2 separate regions of the Homo sapiens genome follow, and region 1 is linked to region 2. Evidence: fine-mapped expression QTL. A gene starts in region 2. The other region holds a variant in brackets. All regions are shown on one strand. Distances are from middle to middle.

Region 1 (10,990 bases), 100 kb after region 2:
CTGCTCAGAGGGAGGGACGGGGTGAATATCCTGACTGGACCCCAGCCAGGGGAGCAGGAGGAACAGCTGCACAGCCAGCCTTTCGACTCTGATGCCCTCCCCTTCTCCTAGACAACCTCACGGAGGTGCAGACTATAGTGGAGCAGGTGAAAGAGAAGACCAACCACATCCAGGCCCTGGCACACAGCACCGTGGGTCAGACCTTGCTGGTGAGAGTCCAGCCGTGACAAAGGGACCCAGGTGGCAGTTGCAGCCAGGCCTTCCTGGAGATGCCTCTCCTGCTCCTCTTTCTCTCTCTCCAGATCCCTCTGAAGAAGCTCTTTCCCTCCATCATCAGCATCACATGGCCACTGCTTTTCTTTGAATATGAAGGGAACTTCATCCAGGTATGGGGAATGAGAAGGTCCTATCTGCAGTAAGGGGCTCAGAGGGTGAGGGATTCCAAGAATCAAAAAACCCAAGGCTGTAGGGCAGAAAGTTTGGAGACCTCTCTGACCCTCACAAAGCCAGCTGGGCAAGGTCATGGGTTACCAGGTTACTAGTCAGAATTCCCAAGGCAATGAACTACTGGGCTCAGCTGTCTCTAGGAATATGCAAAAAGTTGCGGGATAGGCCTCCAGTCACCTGACAGATGTTCATTTGTCCTTTGGGACAGGTTAATTATTTTTACTTTGAGACAGAGTCTCACTCTGTCGCCCAGGCTGGAGTGCAGTGGTGCAATCTTGGCTCACTGCAACCTCTGCCTCTTGGGTTCAAGTGATTCTCGTGCCTCAAGTAGCTGGGACTACAGGTGTGCACCACCATGCCCGGCTACTGTTTGTATTTTTAGTAGAGATAGGGTTTCCTCATGTTGGCCAGGCTGGTCTCGAACTCCTGACCTCAAGTGATCTGCCTGCCTCGACCTCCCAAAGTACTGGGATTACAGGTGTAAGCCGCTGCGCCTGGCTGGGACAGGTTAATTCTTGATACCAAAGTCATCATCATTATCCAAAAGCTTTTACCACACCTTTTTTTTTTTTGCAAGTTTACTATGCTGAATTCATTGCAGATAACTTTATGTGCATATAGTCCCTGCTTGCCAATGAATTATAATCCAGCACAAATACTGATAATAATTACAGAAATAATAATCAGTGTGTGTGCTCTTTGCAATTTAGAGCTTTGTGTGGGCATTGGGAGCTCTGGATGCCGGTCTAGCTCTACAGTGTGGCCCAAGAAAGCAAGCAATTTTACATCTCTGGTTCTCAGTTTTCTCATACACCACCTGCCCACCCTCCATGGGCAGAATCAGGGCCCTGAAGGGTTGCTCTGGAGAGATGTGGTCTCTTATTCGTTATTCAAACCATGTCTGTCAGAAGTTTCCTGGCTTGACCAGACACAGCTGAAACACTGACTTACCTGGACTCAGAACTCGTATAGAAGCGGAAGTTTCTCTGCCCCTGAACAGGGAATCCACTCTCCTTCCAATGTCTTTCATTCTTTTTATTTTTTAAAGACAAAGTCTCACTCTGTGGCCCAGACTAAAGTGCAGTGGTGCCATCTCAGCTCACTGCAACCTCCGCCTCCCCTGCTCAACTGATCCTCCCACCTCAGCTTCTCAAGTAGGTAGGACCACAGGCACTCACCACCATGACTGGCTAATTTTTGTATTTTTTTTGTAGAGATCGGGTTTCTCCACATTGCCCAGGCTGTTTGCCAACTCCTAGACTCAAGTGATCCACCCGCCTTAGCCTCCCAAAGTGCTGAGATTGCAGGCGTGAGCCACTACGCCTAGCCAAAACACTGTATTTTTAAAGAAAAATGTTCATTTTAACAGCCATACATTTTTTATAGATACATTTTTTATAGTAAAGACGTTACAAATTACAGAAATGCAAAAAAGAAAAAATCACTCCAAATCTACCATCTTCAAAAAAAAAAAAAAAACACTCTAACAAATTTTGGAGAATGTCCTTTTAAATTTCTATTATATGCATATATAAATATATTTGTACAAAAGTAAGACCATACTTGATATGCTGTTTTAAAGTTGCTTTATGAACATCTTTCTGTACTAATAGATCACCATCATTTTCAAAAATTATTATTATTATTATTTATTTTTATCATGCCGGGACATGTTCTCATCTGATAGATCACTACTATCATTTTTTTTTTTTTTAAGATGGAGTCTCGCTCTGTCACCCAGACTGGAGTGCAGTGGCGCGATCTCCGCTCACTGCAAGCTCTGTCTCCCAGGTTCACGCCATTCTCCTGCCTCAGCCTCCTGAGCAGCTGGGACTACAGGTGCCCGCCACCACGCCTGGCTAATTTTTTGTATTTTTTAGTAGAGACGGGGTTTCACCGTGTTAGCCAGGATGGTCTCGATCTTCTGAACTTGTGATCCACCCGCCTCAGCCTCCCAAAGTGCTGCGATTACAGGCGTGAGCCACCACGCCCGGCCACTACTATCATTTTTAGTGTCAATGTAATATTCCACTGTATAGATGTACCATAAATTGTTTAACTCCGATTATCAGACACAGAGACAACTTCAATATTATGGTTTTTATTAAAGTGCTGCACTGAACATCCTTATAAACACATCTTTTAGGCATTTGACTTGTTTCACCAGGATAAACCCCAAAAGCGAAATCACTGGGTCAAAGGGGATGTAAAATTTTGAAGCTTTTTGATACATACAGCCAAACTGCCCTCCAAAGAGGTTTATAAATAAAGCGTGAAGTTGCTTGTTCCCTTACACCCTTATACATACTGGATAGCATCCTTATAAAAAAATCTTTGCTAATCAGTAAAGCAACAAAAGGGCATTTTAGTGTTATTTTAATTTATATTTCTTTAATTATTGTGTAGGTGGACTACTTAAAAATATATATTGGCCATTTGATACTTTTTTTTTGTCTTTCATGTACTGCTTCTTGTCTTTTGGGTCTATTTACCCATTCTTTCTTTGGGGGGTATTTTTTTTTCTTATTTGTAAGAAGGGGTGTGTATAGCAAAAACAGTAGCCCTTTTTTTCTTTTCTATATTTTTCCCAGCTTAATATTTTCTTTTGTTTTTACGTTTTTTATGTAGAGACATTTTATTTAAAATGTTACATAGTCAAATCTATCAATCTTTTCCTTTGTGTTTTTTGCCTTTTGGTTGATGTTGGTTTTATTTATTTGTTTATTTATTTGTGAGACAGAGTCTCGCTCTGTGGCCCAGGCTGGAGTACAGTGGTGTGATCTTGGCTCATTGCAACCTCTGCCTCCCGGGTTCGAGCGATTCTCCTGCCTCAGCCTCCTGAGTAGCTGGGATTACAGGCACACGCCTCTATGCCCTGCTACTTTTTTCATTTTTTGTAGAGACAGGGTTTCACCATGTTGGCCGGGCTGGTCTCGAACTTCGGACCTCAGGTAATACACCTGCCTTGGCCTCTCGAAGTGCTGGGATTACAGGAGTGAGCCACTGCACTCAGCCTGGTTTTATCTTTCTAAATGAATTGGAATTGTTTGAAATAAAGAGGCTTTGTTTGGGCTGGTCAATCTTTAGCTATAGAAATATTTTTGACAGACGCCGTGGCTCACGCCTGTAATCCCAGCACTTTGGGATGCCAAGGCGGGCAGGTCACCTGAGGTCAAGAGTTCGAGACCACCCTGGCCAACATGGTGAAACCCTGTCTCTACTAAAAATACAAAAAAATTACCTGAGCATGGTAGTGGGTGCCTGTAATCCCAGCTAGTCGGGAGGCTGAGGCAGGAGAAGCCGAGGTTGCAGTAAGCTGAGAACGCACCATTGCACTCCAGCCAGGGCAACAAGAGTGAAACTCTGTCTCAAAAAAAAATAATAATAAAAATTAAAAATAAAAAAAAGAAATATTTTCTATGTAAACTGTTCCTACACTTTTATTTTGTTTTGTTTTGTTTTCTTTTTTGCCTTCCGAAGTGACAGTGGATACACTTTTATTTTGATAAAAATCAAACCTACAGAAAAATACGAAAATGGTGCAAGGAACACCCATATACTTTTCCCTAGATTCATCAATTATTAACATTTTGCCATATTTGCTTCATCTCTTTCTTTTCCCCTGAATTATATGAAAGATAATTGGAGCCAGGTACGGTGGCTCATGCCTGTAATCCCAGCACTTTGGGAGGCCAAGGCAGGCAGATCACAAGGTCAGGAGTTCGAGACCAGCCTGATCAACATGGTGAAACCTGATCTCTACTAAAAATACAAAAATTAGCCAGGCGTGGTGGCTTGGACCTGTAATCACAACTACTCAGGAGGCTGAGGCAGAAGAATCGCTTGAACCTGGGAGGCAGAGGTTGCAGTGAGCTGAGATCATACCACTGCACTGCAGCCTGGGCGACACAAGACTCCATCTCAAAAAAAAAAAAAAAAAAAAAGCCGGGCGTGGTGGCTCACGCCTACAATCCCAGTACTTTGGGAGGCTGAGGTGGGTGGATCACAAGGTCAAGAGTTCAAGACCAGCCTGGCCAACATGGTGAAACCCATCTCTACTAAAAATACAAAAATTAGCCGGGCATGGTGGCACATGCTCATAGTCCCAGCTACTCGGGAGGCTGAGGCAGGAGGATCACTTGAACCTGGGAGGTGGAGGTTGCAGTGAACCGAGATCATGCCACTGCACTCCAGCCTGGGTGACAGAGTGAGACTCCATCTCAAAAAAAAAAAAAAAAGAAGATAATTGGAGATGCCTGATATGTTATACTAATTACTTTGGTATGTGTCCTCTAAGAACAAGGGCATTCACCTACATAATTACAATATACTTTTCCACTCAGGAAAATGACAATTAATATACTATTATCTATTATCTAGACCATATTCAAATTTCCCCAAATATTCCTGTATTGTTTTTATTTCCCAGATCCAGGATCCAATCAAGGATAATGCACTGCATTCAGTTATCAGGTCTTTTGGGTTTTCCTTTACTCCAGATGAGTTTCTCAGTTGTTCTTTATCTCTTTGATGACATTGATATCTTAGAAGTAAGTCCAGGTCAGTTGTTTTCCAGAATATGCCTCACTTTGGATTTGCCTGATTGTTTCGTCATGATATTCAGGTTAAATTTTTTGGCAGGAGTACTGCATAGGGGAAGTTGTGCCCTTATCAGTGTATCACATCGGGAGGTACCTGATGTCAGTTTGCCCCTTTATTGGTGATGCTACATTCCATCGTTTAGCTAGGATGGTGTCTGTTAGATTTCTCTGTATCCTATTCCTCAGCAATCTTTCACCCAATGGTTTTAGCATCCACTGATGATTCTTGGTTGAATTAATTATTACTATGGTAGTTTTTCAATGGTGATTTTCTATTTCTATCCCTTCCATCTATATTCAGTAGTTGGCATTCTTCTGTAAAGAAAATCTCTCTCATCCAGGTGCGGTGGCTCACATCTGTAATCCCAGCACTTTGGGAGGCTGAGGCAGGTGGATCACTTGAGGCCAGCAGTTTGAGACCAGCCTGGCCAGCATAGCAAAACCCCATCTCTACTAAAATACAAAAATTAGCCGGGTGTGGTGGTGTGCACCTGTAGTCCCAGATACTCAGGAGGCTGAGTCGGAGAATTGTTTGAACCAGGAGGTAGAGGTTGCAGTGAGCTGAGATCGTGCCATTGCACTCCAGCCTGGGTGATAGAGCGAGACTCCGTCACAAAAAAAAAAAAAAGAAAGAAAGAAAATCTTTTTCTTCTCTCCCCGTCCTATCTACCCTATCTATCTTTGTTTTTTTAGTGTCAATATGGACTCATGAATTTTTTGTTGTTGTTAAATGTGTTTTAATCCATTCTTATTATTCATTATTTATTTTAATGCTCAAAATGAGAGTTCATTCAAGCTGGTTCCTGTGTCCTTGTGACATATCCACATCAGTATTTGAACACTCTTTGTTGTGTTTCTTTTTGTAAAATAATAATAACCTTCTTATGCAAAAGGTAGCATCTTTTTTATATCTTGCATTTTTTGCTTAAGATATTCTGAAAATCACTGCAGTGCAGTTTATAGATCTCTTCCTCATTATTACTTATTATTTGCATTTGTGTGTGTGTGTGTGTGTGTGTGTGTGTGTGTGTGTGTAACAATAGTTTGCCCTGTCAATCTCCTATGCAGGAACACAAAACCACTGACCCAGGCTCACCTATACTTTCCCTGATCCAGCCCTGGAGTCAGTCATTTTTCTGAGGAGACCTGATCTTGTTAGTGGGTTCTAGTATTTAGAAACCCAAATGCTAGGTATGTTCACTGCTACTGGTGTGTCTTTGCCTCTAAGCCCTATCAGTAGAAAGAATAAGGGTGTGTGTATGTGTGTGTTTATGTATATATACATGCATACATACATATACATATGTATGTTTGTTTACATACAGATGAATGTGTCTGCGTATATATATATATACACACACATACATCTATATATACATCTATATAAATACTGTATATAT[A/G]TTCCCACTCTTCTTCCTCTTTCCCTTAGTGATAATGTTGATTTCCAACATCATCAATATATCTGCCGTCTCATTCCATTTCCATTCATGCCTGTAGGGAATTAGTTTAATTAGTTACTGGCTTATCCTCCTATGTTTCTTTTTGGAGAAAAGTGTGTGTGTACATATAAGTTTGCACTTCCTATACAAAAGGCAGTCTACTATACTCTTTTGTGCTTTAAGAAGATATTCTGAAAATCACTCCATATTGGATCATAGAGCTCTTCCTCATTAATTTTTACCTTTGTGTGTTTCCACATATGTAATAGTTTACTCAGGCAATCTCCTATGTAGGACATATAGGTTTCCCATATTTTGCTATGATCAATCATGATGTAATGAATGTACATGTATTTTTATAATGTCAGAAGAGTATCTTTGGGATAAATTCCTAGAAGTATTAGAGCTGGGTCAAACGGTACATACATATGCCATTTTGTTAGATATTGCAAAATTTCCTTCCATAGGGTTTACTATTTTGCTTTCCATACCAGCAATATACAAGAATGCTGCTCTCCTACAGCCTCTTGGAGAGTTTTGTGAAGTTTTTGGATTTTGTCAACCTGATAGATTAGAAATGCCACTTCTGTGTAGTTTTCATTTATTTATTATTATTTTATTACTATTATTATTATTGTTTTTTGAGATGGAGTCTTGCTCTGTCACCCAGGCTGGAGTGCAGTGATGTGATCTCAGCTCACTGCAACCTCTGCCTCCCAGGTTCAAGCAATTCTTCTGCCTCAGCCTCCCAAGTAGCTGGGATTACAGGTGCCCAGCACCATGCACAGTTAATTTTTGCATTTATAGTGGAGACAGGGTTTCACCATGTTGGCCAGGCTGGTCTCGAACTCCTGACCTCAGGTGATCTGCCCATGTCGGCCTCCCAAAGTGCTGATTACAGGCGTGAGCCACCACGCCCAGCCTTATTTTATTATTTTTTTGAGACAGGGTCTCATTCTGTCACCTAGGCTGGAGTGCTGTGGTGTGATCATGGCTCACTGCAGCCTCAACTTCCTGGGCTCTGGTGATCATCCCACCTCAGCCTCCCGAGTGACTGGGACTACAGGCGCTTGCCACCATGCCTAGCTAATTTTGTTTCACCATGTTGGCCAGGGGTGTCACCATGTTGGCCAGGCTGGTCTTAAACTCCTGACCTCAAGTGATCCACTCGCCTCTGCCTCCCAAAGCACTGGGATTATAGGCGTGGTCCAGAAAGCTTTTTCTAACATCTAAATTGTAAAGGAATTCCATCCATGTTTTCTGCTAGTAGAGATGGTTTCTTTTTTTCTTTTTTAAACACTTAGATCTTTAATTTATTGGGAGTTTATTCTTGTGTATGGGGTAAGGCATGAATCCAATTATTTATTTTTCCAAGTGATTATCCAATTGTTCGTATATATATATATATATATATTTTTTTTTTTTTTTTGAGACAGAATCTCACTCTGTCACCCACGCTGGTGTGCAGTGATGTGATCAGATTTCACTGCAACCTCAAACTCCTGGGCTGAAGCAATCATCCCACCTCAGCCTCCCAAGTAGCTGGGACTACAGGCACATGCCACCATGCCTGGCTAATTAAACAAAATTTTTTTTTTTTTTTTTGTAGAGACAGGTTCTTGCTATGTTGCACACGCTGGTCTCAAATCCCTGGCCTCAAGCAATCCTCCTGTCCCAGCCTCCCAAAGAGCTGGGGTTACTGGGGTGAGCCACCGTGCCTGGCTCCAATATAATTTTTTTAAGTTCATCTTTTCCTGAGTGATTTAGGATGCTATCTGTGTCACATACTCAATTTCTATGTGCATTGGTCTATTTATGGACTTTCTATTCTGTTCCACTGGTTTGTCTATTGATGTGCTGGTACCATATGTTTTAATTATGGAGGCGTTATGGTATGTTTGGTATCCAATAGGGTTTGTTCTTCATTCTTGTTTTTTTTTTTTTTTTTTTTTTTTTGAGATGGAGTCTCATTCTGTTGCCCAAGTTGGAGTTCAATGGTATGATCTCGGCTCACTGCAACCTCCGCCCCCCAGGTTCAAGTGATTCTCTTGCCTCAGCCTCCCAAGTAGCTGGGATTACAGGCACGCGCCACTACACCAGGCAAATTTTCTTTTGTATTTTTAGTAGAGATCAGGTTTCACCCTGTTGGCCAGGCTGGTCTCAAACTCCTGACTTCAAGTGATCCACTCACCTCAGCCTCCCAAAGTGCTGGGATTATAGGCGTGAGCCACTGTGCCCAGCCTATTCTTCTTTTTAAGGATTTTCCTGGCTATATCCAGGCCGATTTTTCCATGTGTACTTTAAAATGAATGTGTCGCACTCCAAATTTTGTAAAATTTAAAATATTTTTGTGTTAATGGTGTTAATGTTAATGGTATCAATGGTTAGTGGTATAACCTAGATCTAATTGACCTCTCTCCCAAAGTGCAGTCTGACACGCACCCTATAGCATCAGTACTGCATACTTACTGGCCAGTTTCATGCTGAAATTTCATGCTGTTCTTATATTTAGTGTCGTGGACATTCACTTATTAAAATGTTTTCAATATACCCTCTTCCAGGGTTTTGTGTGAACAGCTATTTCTAGAGTTCCAGAATAAAGAGGTAAAAGTAGCAGTAGCCTGTTTCCTCAGCCTGGCTAGGACCACGTGTATTAGTACCTTTTTTTTTTTTTTTTTTAATATGGAGTCTCATTCTGTCGCCAGGCTGGAGTGCAGTGGCGTGATCTAGGCTCACTGCAACCTCTGCCTCCTGGGTTCAAGTGATTCTCCTGCCTCAGCCTCCTAAGTAGCTCTGACTTACAGGTGCTTGCTACCATGCCTGGCTAATTTTTGTATTTTTAGTAGAGACGGGGTTTCACCATGTTAGCCAGGATGGTCTCAATCTCCTGACCTCATGATCCGCCCACCTTGGCCAGTACATTTTCATACTGCTCTAAAGAACTGCCCGAGACTGGGTGATTTATAAAGGAAAGAGGTTTAATTGACCCACAGTTCAGCATGGCTGGGGAGGCCTCAGGAAACTTACAATCATGGTGGAAGGTGAAGGGGAAGTAAGGCATCTTCTTCCCAAGGTGGCAGAAAGGAGAAGTGCCAAGTGAAGGGGGAACAGCCCCCTTATAAAACCATCAGATCTCATGAGAACTCACTATCCCAAGAACAGCATGGGGGAACGCCCCCTGCCCCCCATGATTCAATTACCTCCACCTGGTCTCTCTCTTGACACATGGGGATTATGGGGATTACAATTCAAGATGAGATTTGGGTGAGGACACAAAGCCTAACCATATCACCAGTTAATTAATCCCCTCAACACCTTTACTGGGCCCCAGTTTCCCTGCTAATGTGCCAATAGGTGTTATAAGTGCCCCAAGGTGGACAAGATATAAGGGCCAAAAACAAGGGGCAGTTTTATACTCGCGATACCACATGTTTGAACAATTTTTTAGTTTTCAACATGCCTTTACATAGGTTCTCTCATTCATCCAGGAGATATTTGTGGCAAAGTAGGAAATGCCCTCATCATTGAATCAGAAGACCGGGATTTAGGTCCTCATTCTCCATCTCGTTATCATATGAGCTTCTCCAAGTTAATTTACTTCTGACCTCTAGTTTCCTCATATGTAGAAATGAGGATAGGTAAACTTATTCTGTAGGGCTGTTAGAAAAATTAAATAGAATTCATTTTTCAACAAACATTTTTTTTTCCCCTGAGACATAGTCTCACTCTGTTGCCCAGGCTGGAGTGCAGTGGCACAATCTAGGCTCACTGCAACCTCCACCTCCCGGGTTCAAGTGATTCTTGTGCCTCAGCCCCCCGAGTAGCTGGGATTACAGGTGTATGCCACCACTCCTAGCTAATTTTTGTGTATTTAGTAGAGACAGCATTTCATCATGTTGGCTAGGCTTGTTGAGAACTCCTGACCTCAGGTGATCCCCCAACCTTGGCCTCCCAAAGTGGTGGGATTACAGGAGTGAGCCACTGTGCCCGGCCTCAACAAATGTATTGATCAGCAAATATGTGTCAGTCATGGTCTAAAAAACTGGGGCCCTGGAGCAGAATAAGTCACCATCTCTGCCCTTTCAAGAAGCCTGTGGTTTAGTGGAATGAATCCCACTCCTCCTGTCTGATACCCGGGGAGAAAAAGGAACAATTCAGCAGGATCAAAATTCTAATATGGAAGGACTCAGAGAACATGTCTGTCTACCTAGGGGTCAAAAACACAAATGGGTGAAGCTACCAGGTTTGCCTGAGACAATCCTGGTTTACATCTATTGCCCTAACATTTAAACGCTGGGCTGCTCAAACAAATCATGTTTGCATTTTGGTCCCTGGTTCTTGACAGTTGGTTTCCTGTCTGATAACAGGGCCCTGTTCACTCTGCTGCTTTTCTGTCCTCTAATTTTTGACACCCCCATGTGTCTGCCCTTTTCAGAAGTTCCAGCGTGAGCTAAGCACCAAATGGGTGCTGAATACAGTGAGTACAGGTGCTCATGTGCTTCT
Region 2 (11,171 bases):
CCTGACCAACACAGAGAAACCCCATCTCTACTAAAAATACAAAAAATAAGCCAAGTGTCGTGGCACATGCCTGTAATCCCAGCTACTCAGGAGGCTGAGGCCGGAGAATCACTTAAACAGAAAGGCCAGTGAGCCGAGATCACACCACTGCACTCTAGACTGGGTGACAGAGACTCTGTCTAAAAAAAAAAAAGAGAGAGAGAGAGAAATTCTGACCTGGTTTAGTAAGTAAAAAGCGCTTTAAGCTATTGGCTATTGATATGAGATGCTAATCTGAAGATAAGAAAATAAATGTTTTTCAACCTTCAATGCCCTAAGGTAGAACCCCATAGCATACTTGTGATATTTCTTTTTATATTTTTTCCATTAATTTAATGACTGAAACAAATATGCAGGTATTTTAAGAATTTTCTGCTCAATACTATCTTTATAGTCAATTCTAGATGACCCCTTGACCACTAATAAGCCAGCTTCTACACAGCAATAAATAGCCAGCCTCCTCAAAATTATACTATAGATATTGACACTGCCTTTAATAAAAGGAAAATATGATTTATAGCACAAAAAATTCCTGGCCGGGCACGGTAGCTCACATCTGTAATCCCAGCACTTTGGGAGGCCGAGGCAGGTGGATCACAACGTCAGGAGTCTTGAGACCAGCCTGGCCAACATAGTGAAATCCTGTCTCCACTAAAAATACAAAAAAAAATTAGCTGGCCTGGTGGCAGACTCCTGTAATCCCAGCTATTTGGAAGGCTGAGGCAGGAGAATCACTTGAACCCAAGAGGCGGAAGTTTCAGTGAGCCGAGATCAAGCCACTACACTCCAGCCCGGGTGACAATGCGAGACTCCGTTTCAAAAAAAAAAAAAATTCCTAACTCTCCATAGAAAGCAGTTTTGTCACTTCCAGAGAACCTCACAACCAAATATTAAATGTACTCTTGTCCCCTTAAGACTACATCAACTGATGGGCCAGGCATGGTGGCTCACGCCTGTAATGCCAGCACTTTGGGAGGCCGAGGCGGGCGGATTAAGAGGTCAGGAGTTGGAGACCAACCCGGCCAACATAGTGAAACCCTGTCTCTATTGAAAATACAAAAAATTAGCCGGGCATGGTGGCAGGCGCCTGTAATCCCAGCTACTCGGGAAGCTGAGGCAGGAGAATCGCTTGAACTCAGGAGGCAGAGGTTGCAGTGAGCCAAGATCATGCCATTATACTCCAGCCTGGGCAACAGTGCAAGACTCCGTCTCGGAGAAAAAAAAAAAAAAAAAAGACTACATCAACTGAATCTATTTTCAGATTTGACTTCTTATTTAGCCAACAAAAACTCAAGGGCCTTACCTTATAATTTTTCAGGCACCCCTCCACAACCTACCTCATTTTTTTTTTTTTTTTTTTAAGATGGAGTCTCACCCTGTCGCCCAGGCTGGAGTGCAGTGGTGCGATCTCGGCTCACTGCAACCTCCGCCTCCCAGGTTCAAGCGATTCTCCTGCCTCAGCCTCCGGAGTAGCTGGGACTACAGGCGTGCGCCACCATGCCCAGCTAATTCTTGTATTTTAGAAGAGACAGGGTTTCACCATATTGGCCAGAATGATCTCGGTCTCTTGATCTCGTGATCCGCCCACCTCGGCCTCCCAAAGTGCTGGGATTACAGGCATGAGCCACCGTGCCCAGTGCCTACCTCTTAATCCCAAAGTACATACCTCATCCACTTTTTTCATGGAGAAAGGAGGAAGGAGGAGAACATCAACTGTGGTGGTTTTTTTGTTTGTTTTTTTGAGACGGAGTCTGTCACCCTGGCTAGAGTGCAGCGGTGAGATCTCGGCTCACTGGCCTTCCTATTCAAGCAATTCTCTGGCCTCTGGCTAATTTTTGTATTTTCAGTAGAGACGGGGTTTCACCATGTTGACTAGGCTGGTCTCGAACTGACCTCAGGTGATCTGCCCCCCTCGGCCTCCCAAACTGCTGGGATTACAGGCGTTAAGCCACCACGACTGGCCTGTGGTATTTTGATTACCTTTTCTCAAAACACCCTGGTTGCTGGGCATGGTGGCTCACAGCATTTTGGGAGGCAGAGGCGGGCCGATCACCTGAGGTCAGAAGTTCGAGACCAGCCTGACCAACATGGAGAGACCCCCATCTCTACTAAAAATACAAAATTAGCCAGGCGTGGTGGCACATGCCTGTAATCCCAGCTACTCAGGAGGCTGAGGCAGGAGAATCGCTTGAACCCGGGAGGCGGAGGTTGCAGTGAGCCGAGATCATGCCATTGTACTCCAGCCTGGGCAACAAGATAGAAACTCCGTCTCAAAAACAAAACAAAACAAAACAAACAACAACAACACCCTGGTCACACAGGAAGAGAAGCTTGAAACAGGCAGAAAGTAAAAATGCCAGCTATTGATGATTGCCATTTTTGTCTCAAGAGTCCTCTCTACGGCTAAATCTATCCATCAGTCAGCATGTCAACAACCTTTAGTGGTATGATAACCTTACCTCAAATGAAGCATTAGGACCAAGCAAATAGGGTAAATAAACTTTATTAATTTTTGGATTAAGCCCTAAAGCTTCAGAGGAATGGGAGTACTTTATATTTTCTGGAAAGATAAGATTCAGGGAAGAGGCTAGAACTCATAGTTATTTTCTTGCAATAGCAAAGAAACTATGCTACACTTTGAAGAGAAAAAAAGCCAGAAGGAACACTATCAATGAAGCAGAATAGGATCCCAAACAATACTCTTCAAGAGGATTTGATTAGGCATATTTAACTATTGATTAGGCATATTTATTCAAACAAGGGCAACTTCAGAAACAGCACATTAGCAAGATTTTAATACCCTAAGCAGTTATCTCTCAGGAGGAAGATTAGGATGTAAGGAATAGTCTAGTAAGATCTCTACACACTAAACCGTCCCTGACAAAAAAAATCATTTTCTAATTGAGGAGAAACCAAAAATAAAGGGAAATGCCCTACAGAGAAGCAGCAAATAGTATGGAATCACTGGGCAAACCAACGTGAAACACTGAGTAGCCAAGCAACTCAATCCGTAAGTAAAAGTAGAAAGAAGGGTACCAAAGAAATGAAAAAACAACAGCAGAGAAGTGAAAAATATTAAATGAGAAACCTGGAAGAAACGTTTTACTGCGAGATGGAATATTCACCTCAAATCTCACAACGTTAACAGAAAATGCCATGGAAATGGAACTTCTTGACTACCTACTTTACAAAAAGACTTTCCTACGAAACTATACCCAGATTTATTTATTTATTCTTTTTTTTTTTTTTTTTGAGACAGTGTCTCACTCTGTCGCCCAGGCTGGAGTACAGTGGCACGATCTTGGCTCACTGCAACCTCCGCCTCTGGGATTCAAGCGATTCTCCTGCCTCAGCCTTCCAAGTAGCTATGATTATAGGCACGCACCACCACATTCAGCTAATTTTTTGTATTTTAATAAAGACGGGGTTTCTTCATGTTGTCCAGGCTGGTCTCGAACTCCTAAGCTCAGGCAATCCGCCCGCCGCAGCCTCCCAAAGTGTTAGGATTACAGGCATGAGCCACCATGCCTGGCCTATTCATTTATTTTTTGAGACAGCGTCTCGCTCTGTCACCCAGATTGGAGTGCAGAGGGGCGATCTTGGCTCAATGAAGGCTCTGCCTCTCAGGCTCAAAGTGATTTTCTATCTCAGCCTCCCAAGTAACTGGGACTACAGGTGGGTGCCACCATGCCCAGCTAATTTTTTTGTATTTTTTGTAGAGACAGGGTTTTTGCCATGTTGCCCAGGCTGGTCTCGAACTCCTGAGCTCAGGTGATCTGCCTGCCTCGGCCTCCCAAAATGCTGGGATTACAGACGTGAGCCACTGCGCCCAGCCTAGATATTTCTAATAGACAATTACATCTACCAAATAGTTATACTGTGTATGGTGGTGAAATATGAATGCTATGCTTCAGTTTGACATAGATGATTAACAATGTCTAGTGTCTTCAACGATCTGATCCTACAAATTCTTTCCACCAAAACAGTGTCCTAACCTTTCTGGGCCTCAATTTCTTAGCTATAAAATGTGGGAGCCGCAGGGTGTGGTGGTTCATGCCTGTAATCCTAGCACTTTGGGAGACCGAGGCAGGCAGATCACCTAAGTCAGGAGTTCAACACCAGCCTGACCCACATGAAGAAACCCTGTCTCTACTAAAAATACAAAATAAGCCAGGCGTGGTGGCACATGCCTGTAATCCCAACTACTAGGGAGGCTGAGGCAGGAGAATTGCTCGAACCTGGGAGGCGGAGGTTGCGGTGAGCCGAGATCGCGCCATTGCATTCCAGCCTGGGCAACAAGAGCGAAATTCTGTCTCAAAAAAAAAAAAAGGGAGCCAAAGCAGATGAGATGAACTATAGGATACACTCCAATCCTGAAATTTTATACCTAATTATAAAATTGTTATTAAGGTCAGTTATGAATATAAAATTTGAATCGGAAAACAAAACATTTAAGTTCATACTGTCATTCCAGAGCTAACCACAGGGAGGAGCGAGGGATCTGAAACAATTCCCAAGGGAGACAGTATTTCGCTGTTACCTGAAGCCCACCCGGTAGGTGGAGAAACCCTCAATACCAGACAGAGTATTTCCCTGGCCCTTTTGCCTAGACTTCAGAATGCTCTTCACAAAGCCACGGTTAACCCGTCTTCCTCCCTTTCCTCCCTACCGCAGTTTTCCCTCTTCTCTTTTGTAGTTTCACATCAAGTTTTACCTAATACTACTACTTTCCCCCCAATATTTTTCTTTTCCCCTTTTGTCCAGAGTAAAATTTTCTAGAAAAGCCCTTTGTAGGTAGGTTGTGATGAAAAAAATTGATGAAATGACTTACAATCAAAGAAACTATAAACTACAATTACAGGCAAATGAGAATTACTGATTAAGTTTTAGAGAAATCCTAAGAGAGAAAGAAAACGAAGCATAATAAAAAGGAAAACCTAGGGACTGACATAATTCAAGTTTTCCGAAGTTAGTAAAAGGCCCTGAAAAGAGTGCAAATGAGTGACAACTCCTGGAGGTCGGGTCCAGCCTCTGAAATTAACATGCAAGAGCCCAAGGCCAGGCAACCAAAATGTGAAACAGACTCTGCCCGGGGTTCCTTTCACTGTCAAACTCCTAGCCAAAAGAGGCTTCCCACATCAGATATTTTAAATATTAAAATTTAAAAAGTTATTCACATCTATTCACCTCTCCCTTGAAAAACAAATGAATAAATAGCCCCTATTTGCGTCTTTACTCCCACACTAAACCTCACACCGTTGATGAGCCTGGAGGGCTAGGTTGGCACGAGAGGATGGCGCCAAAGCTCGGGGAGAGGGCGGTCAGTGGGCGGAAGGTGCCTCTTCCCACATGGCCGAGCCCTCGCCGCCACTGGCCACCGGCACACGGTCCCCAAGCATCGGGAGCTCCCTCTCGGCCCTGACCCCGCGGTCTCTGTCGCCCCGCAAACGGCCGCTGCGGCCGCAGGCTCCCAATTGGGACCCTTCCCAGGGGAGGACCCCATCCCCCGCTCTCTTTCTCCGTCAGATTCCCGCCCCGCAGCGGCCAGCCTATGGGCCCCTGCCTCCTCACCTCCATGGAGACGCGCCAGCCTTGCATGGCGGAGAAGCCGTAGGGCAGCGGCAGGCGCGGGGCGCCGACCCCGTCCCCGGAGCACTTCACCGTGTTGGGCTGGGAGAGGTAGGCACCCATGGCGGCGGCTGGCCGGCGGCCTCAGGTGCAGGAAAGCTGGGCGCGACCCGTGCCGGAGCCGAAGCCCCGGGGGTGCGCGCGGCAGGAGCAGGCCCCGCGGCGCGACCGACGCAAGGTGCCGGTGAAAGGCGCGAGGCCGGCCAGGAGGCGGTAACGGGACGGGAGCTGTGAGGGAGCGGAAGCGGAAACGGCGCCGCTCCAGACCCCGCCCGGCCTGCGCGGCGGGGCCAGGCGCTGCGGGCAGTCATTTCCTTAGCAACTCGCCCCGCCCGCAGGGACAACGGCCCGCCCAACGGCCGCTCCCGCGAGACTAGCGCGACCACGCCCACCAACGGCCGCCGTCCTACTCCGCTTCCTCGCGCAGGTGGCAGGTCGCCTCTGGCAGAACCTCTTCCTTCGTTCCCAGTCCCCAGCCTCTTGGCGTTTTGTCTGACGCCTCTTTTGTGTCGGACTCGACGCTTTCAGCCCGTCCTCCAGTGTTTTCATCCCCCTCTCCCCAACGTTGCACTCTCAGACTCCGCAAACCCCGCCCGATTTGGTTCAATTAAAGTTGACCAGTATTTGTTCCGAGCTTAGGAAGTACTTGGCCAGGCCATGCGAGGCCTATATGAGAAGAATGTGAGTCTTTTCTGAAAGCGAAGACCTCGATCTGTGATATAATTCGAGTTAATACAATGTAGAAATGTTTGGTACAGCCTATTCTGGGTGGGAAAAGCTCAAGGATGGGAGGAGGAGCTGTTTCTTGGAGGATTGAAAGGATGTAGGCTCTCAGAGAGGATGCCTCTGGATTGCATTATGCCACAGGAAAAGGGAATAATGTTATAAGGTTTGGAGGAGTGAGGGAAGAATGTGAACTGCATTTGGGGAGGATTTCTGAGGAAGCTGGCTGGACTCGGAGAATGATTGTAAGTGGTAATATTAACTAGCTAGCTTGATAAAAAGAAGCGCCAAGATGAGTGACTTGGACTTCATTGTCGTCCTGGTGTAACCTTTGGCATCGTTTGTCTAGTCTTTGTATGCAGTGTACATTGGAGGGAGAGAGTCTGGGGCACTGTTGTGTTGTTGTTTTTTGTTTGTTTTTGAGACAGAGTCTCGCTCTGTCGCCCAGGCTACAAGCTCCGCCTCCCGGGTTCACGCCATTCTCCTGCCTCAGCCTCCCGAGTAGCTGGGACTACAGGCGCCCGCCACCACGCCTGGCTAATTTTTTGTATTTTTAGTAGAGACGAGGTTTCACCGTGTTAGCCAGGATGGTCTCCATCTCCTGACCTCGTGATCCGCCCGCCTCGGCCTCCCAAAGTGTTGGGATTACAGGCGTGAGCCACCGCACCCCGCCTACTATTGTTTTTTTTTTAAGACAGAGTTTCGCTCTTGTTGCCCAGGCTGCAGTGCAGTGGCGCTATCTTGGCTCACTGCAACCTCCGCCTCCCAGGTTCAAGCGATTCTCCTGCCTCAGCCTCCCGAGTAGCTAGGATTCCACGCCTGGCTAATTTTTGTATTTTTAGTAGAGACGGGGTTTCACCATGTTGGCCAGGCTGGTCTCGAACTCCTGACCTCGTGATCTACCCGCCTCAGCCTCCCAAAGTGCTGGGATTACAGGCGTGAGCCACCGCGCCTGGCCTGGGGCACTGCTACTAGTTAGAGAGCTCTTACTCTAAGCAGGAGATGAGAAGAGCTGGGAGTAAGGTGGTACCACGCAGGGTGGCAATGGGAATCCAGATGAAAGGACAAATTAGACAATAACAAATAAGACAGATTTGGTAATAAATTGCATTCAAGGGATGGAGAGAAAAGGAGAAATTCTCCAAACTATGACAAAATTGATTCTTTTCAGCCGGGCACAGTGGCTCACACTTGTAATCCCAGCACTTTGGGAGGCCAAGGGGGGGTGGTGGATCACTTGAGGCCAGAAGTTCGAGACCAGCCTGGCCAACATGTGAAACCCGTCTCTACTAAAAATACAAAAATTAGCCAGGCGTAGTGGTGCGCTCCTGTAATCCCAGCTACTTGGGAGGCTAAGGCAGGCGAATAGCTTGAACCCCAGAGGCGGAGGTTGCAGTGAACCAAGATGGCGCCACTGCACTCCACCCTGGGTGACAGAGCAACTCCGTCTCAAAAAAAAAAAAAAGATTCTTTAAAAAGATAAAACTAATCATGGCTTCTTCATGCTCTTCCGATAGTCCAAATTCCTTATAGTTTACAAGACCCTTCATGCTAATCATCCAGATTCACGTATGCCTCTCTTTAACTCTCCATTTCTCCTACAACTCTGCTTCAGCAATGTCTTTGGGTGCATCTAAAGCCATGCTTTCTCTTACACTTTTACCCATGGAGCACACCTCTCCACACCCCTCTTGACCATCACTTTCTCCAGGAAATCTCTACTATCACTATACTAGTTTGGGTCCACACTTGTTTGTCTTTCCTGATAGAATATAAGCCTTTATGAAGGCAGAAGTTCCATTAAACTTACCATTGTGTTTTCCAGCATCCCTTGCAAAGTTGTATGTGCTGAATAATATTTAAATATTTGTTGAATGAATGAATAACACCAAGATTTTGACTCTGCATAACAAAATGTGGTGGAGCCATTAACAGAAAAAGGTGCAGTTTGAGGGGATGCTAGTTTTGGGGGGAAAACAGTGGTTCAGTTTAGGGTGACAACTAATATAAAAACATTGAAAATATTAGATTGGAGTTAAGCCATGAAAGTGGAAAAGATGTTAATTAGGCTTGCAGGTTGCCAGGAACCTAGATGAGATCTCTGACCAAAGCAGTGTAGAGGGAGCATATAAAATTACTCAGCCTTGGTTGCAGTGAGCTGAGATGGTGTCACTGCACTCCAGCCTGGGCGACAGAGTGAGACCCTGTCTCAAAAAACAAACAAATGAACAAAACAGCAACAACAAAAATTACTCAGCCTCTTCTTTCTTCTCCTTCTGCTCCTCCTCTTCCTCCTTCTTCTAAGAAATGAGGTCTTGCTATGTTGCTGAGGCTGGTCTTGAACTTCTGGGCTCAAGCAATCCTTCCACTTTAGCCTCCCAAATAGCCAGGACCACAGACATGTGCCACTATGCCCGCCTTCTTTTTTTTCTTTCTTTTTTTTTTTCTTTTTGGACTTTGTTTTTTCCTAAGAATGGAATGTGACATTGTTTAAAGAGCATGAATTTTGCCACATATTACCTATGAGATCTTTCACAAGTTACTTATTCCCTCTTAGGCTAAGTTCATCTGCAAGACAGACATACAGCATCTACTCTTCAAGACTGCTTTAAGGATAAGAGGAATTGAATGTAAAGTGCTGAGTTATCCATAAATGTTGTATATTATTCAACAAAAGACTGCTGTTTAAGTGTCCATACATACACGCTAAATATGGAATGGAAGCCACATTTAATTGTGTTCACAAAAAATAGGAGGTGGCCTGAAAATAAATGGGAAAAAAACAGACAAGAAAAAAAGTGGAAAAGAAAATATAACTCGAGGCTGGGCACAGTGGCTCACGCCCGTAATCCCAGCACTTTGGGAGGCTGAGGCAGGCGGATCACTTAAGGTCAATAGTCCGAGACCAGCCTGGCCAACATGGTGAAACCCTCTCTCTACTAAAAATACTATATAAACACACACACGCACACACACAATATGACTCAAGGAAAAAGTAACGCACTGGGAGAGCAATAATGTTACAGAGAGGGGAGATAGATACTAAGGGGGATCATGGAAAGAGGTGAAAAAGGAGAAAGAGTATGAAGATTATCCCCTCACCATCCTATTCCCCTCAAAGTCACTACAGTATATTTCCAGTGACGTAAAGGTTTCATGCTTTGACTAGAAGGGAGAAAGAAAAAAAATTTTAAAAAAAGGCCGGGCGCAGTGGCTCACGCCTGTAATCCCAGCACTTTGGGAGGCCGAGGCGGGTGGATCACGAGGTCAGGAGATCGAGACCATCCTGGCTAACATGGTGAAGCCCTGTCTCTACTAAAAAATACAAAAAATTAGCCGGGCGTGATGGTGGGCGCCTGTAGTCCCAGCTATTCGGGAGGCTGAGGCAGGAGAATGGCATGAACCCAGGAGGCGGAGCTTGCAGTGAGCCGAGATCGCGCCACTGTACTCCAGCCTGGGTGACAGAGCAAGACTCTGTCTAAAAAAAAAAAAAAAAAAAAAAAAAACACCCAAAACGCAATACTATATTCATAGATCGATTGATAATGCTGAGTCTGTCTTTAAAGTATGAGCTGCAAAAATCTGGCTAATCAGACATGGTAATAGAGCCAGCTCCTGAACATGTACTTGAGGTGTTAGTCCACATGAAAAAAGGGTTTTTATGGCAGGCATGGTGGCTCACACATGTAATCCCAGCACTTTGAGAGACTGAGGTGGGTGGATCACCTGAGGTCAAGAGTTCAAGACCAGCTTGACCAGTATGGTGAAACCCCGTCTGGCCGGGCACGGTGGTTCACGCCTGTAATCCCGGCACTTTGGGAGGCTGAGGCGGGCAGATCACGAGGTCAGGAGTTCGAGATCAGCCTGACCAACGTGGTGAAACCCCGTCTCTACTAAAAATACAAAAATCAGCTGGGCGTGGTGACACACACCTGTAATCCCAGCTACTTGGGAGGTTGGGGCAGGAGAATCGCTTCAACCCAGGAGGCAGTGGTTGCAGTGAGCTGAGATCGTGCCATGGCACTCCAGCCTGGGCAACAGAGCGAGACTTTGTCTCAGAAAAAAAAAAGAAACCCTGTCTCTACTAGAACTACAAAATTAGCAGGGTATGGTGGCAACATGCCTGTAATTCCAGCTACTTGGGAGGCTGAGGCAGGAGAATCACTTGAATCTGGGAGGCAGAAGTTGCAGTGAGCCGAGATTGCGCCACTGCACTCCAGTCTGGGTGACAGTGCAAAACTCCGTCTCAAAAAAAAAAAAAAAAAAGAAATTATGAACCCTGAGGCATGTAATTATAGATCTCTGGGAATGTTGCCAGCCTGGGAGACATTGCCTTAAAGGTTAAATGTGGATGGGCGTGGTGGCTCACACTTGTAACCCCAGCACTTTGGAAGGCTGAGGCGGCCGGATCATCTGAGGTCAGGAGTTCGACACCAGCCTGGCCAATATGGTGAAACTCTGCCTCTACTAAAAATACAAAAATTAGGTGGGCGTGGAGGCAGGCGCCTGTAATCCCAGCTACTTGGGAGGCTGAGGCAGGAGAATCGCTTGAACCTGGGAGGCGGAGGTTGCAGTGAGCTGAGATCCCGCCATTACACTCCAGCCTGGGCCACAGAGCAAGACTCCATCTCAAAAAAATATATATATATATATTAAATGCTCTAACTTTAGAGTATAATGTGACATCAGTTCAATTGTAAATTTGAATGTGAACTGAAGATCACTCAAAAAAGTGTTAATCTAGATCATCCAAAATATGCCAATATGCTTGTATTTATATT

The links.
Region 1: its variant is fine-mapped to the expression of PPM1G in whole blood (TOPMed, PIP 0.95).

Annotation. Positions count from the first base shown.
Region 1 is chr2:27,507,866-27,518,855 of GRCh38, forward strand. It overlaps GCKR (glucokinase regulator), which reads left to right. Exons shown (of 19, transcript NM_001486.4): 15 at 112-209; 16 at 303-386; 17 at 10,923-10,990. Among named protein-coding and RNA genes, the nearest start is that of GCKR, 17 kb to the left of the region's middle. The variant A/G (reference allele first, on the strand shown) is at 6,449.
Region 2 is chr2:27,403,693-27,414,863 of GRCh38, forward strand. It overlaps PPM1G (protein phosphatase, Mg2+/Mn2+ dependent 1G), which reads right to left and starts at 5,899. Exons shown (of 10, transcript NM_177983.3): 1 at 5,611-5,899. The coding sequence starts at 5,730. RefSeq lists silencers at 5,380-5,459, 5,480-5,529, 5,600-5,789, 5,880-6,069.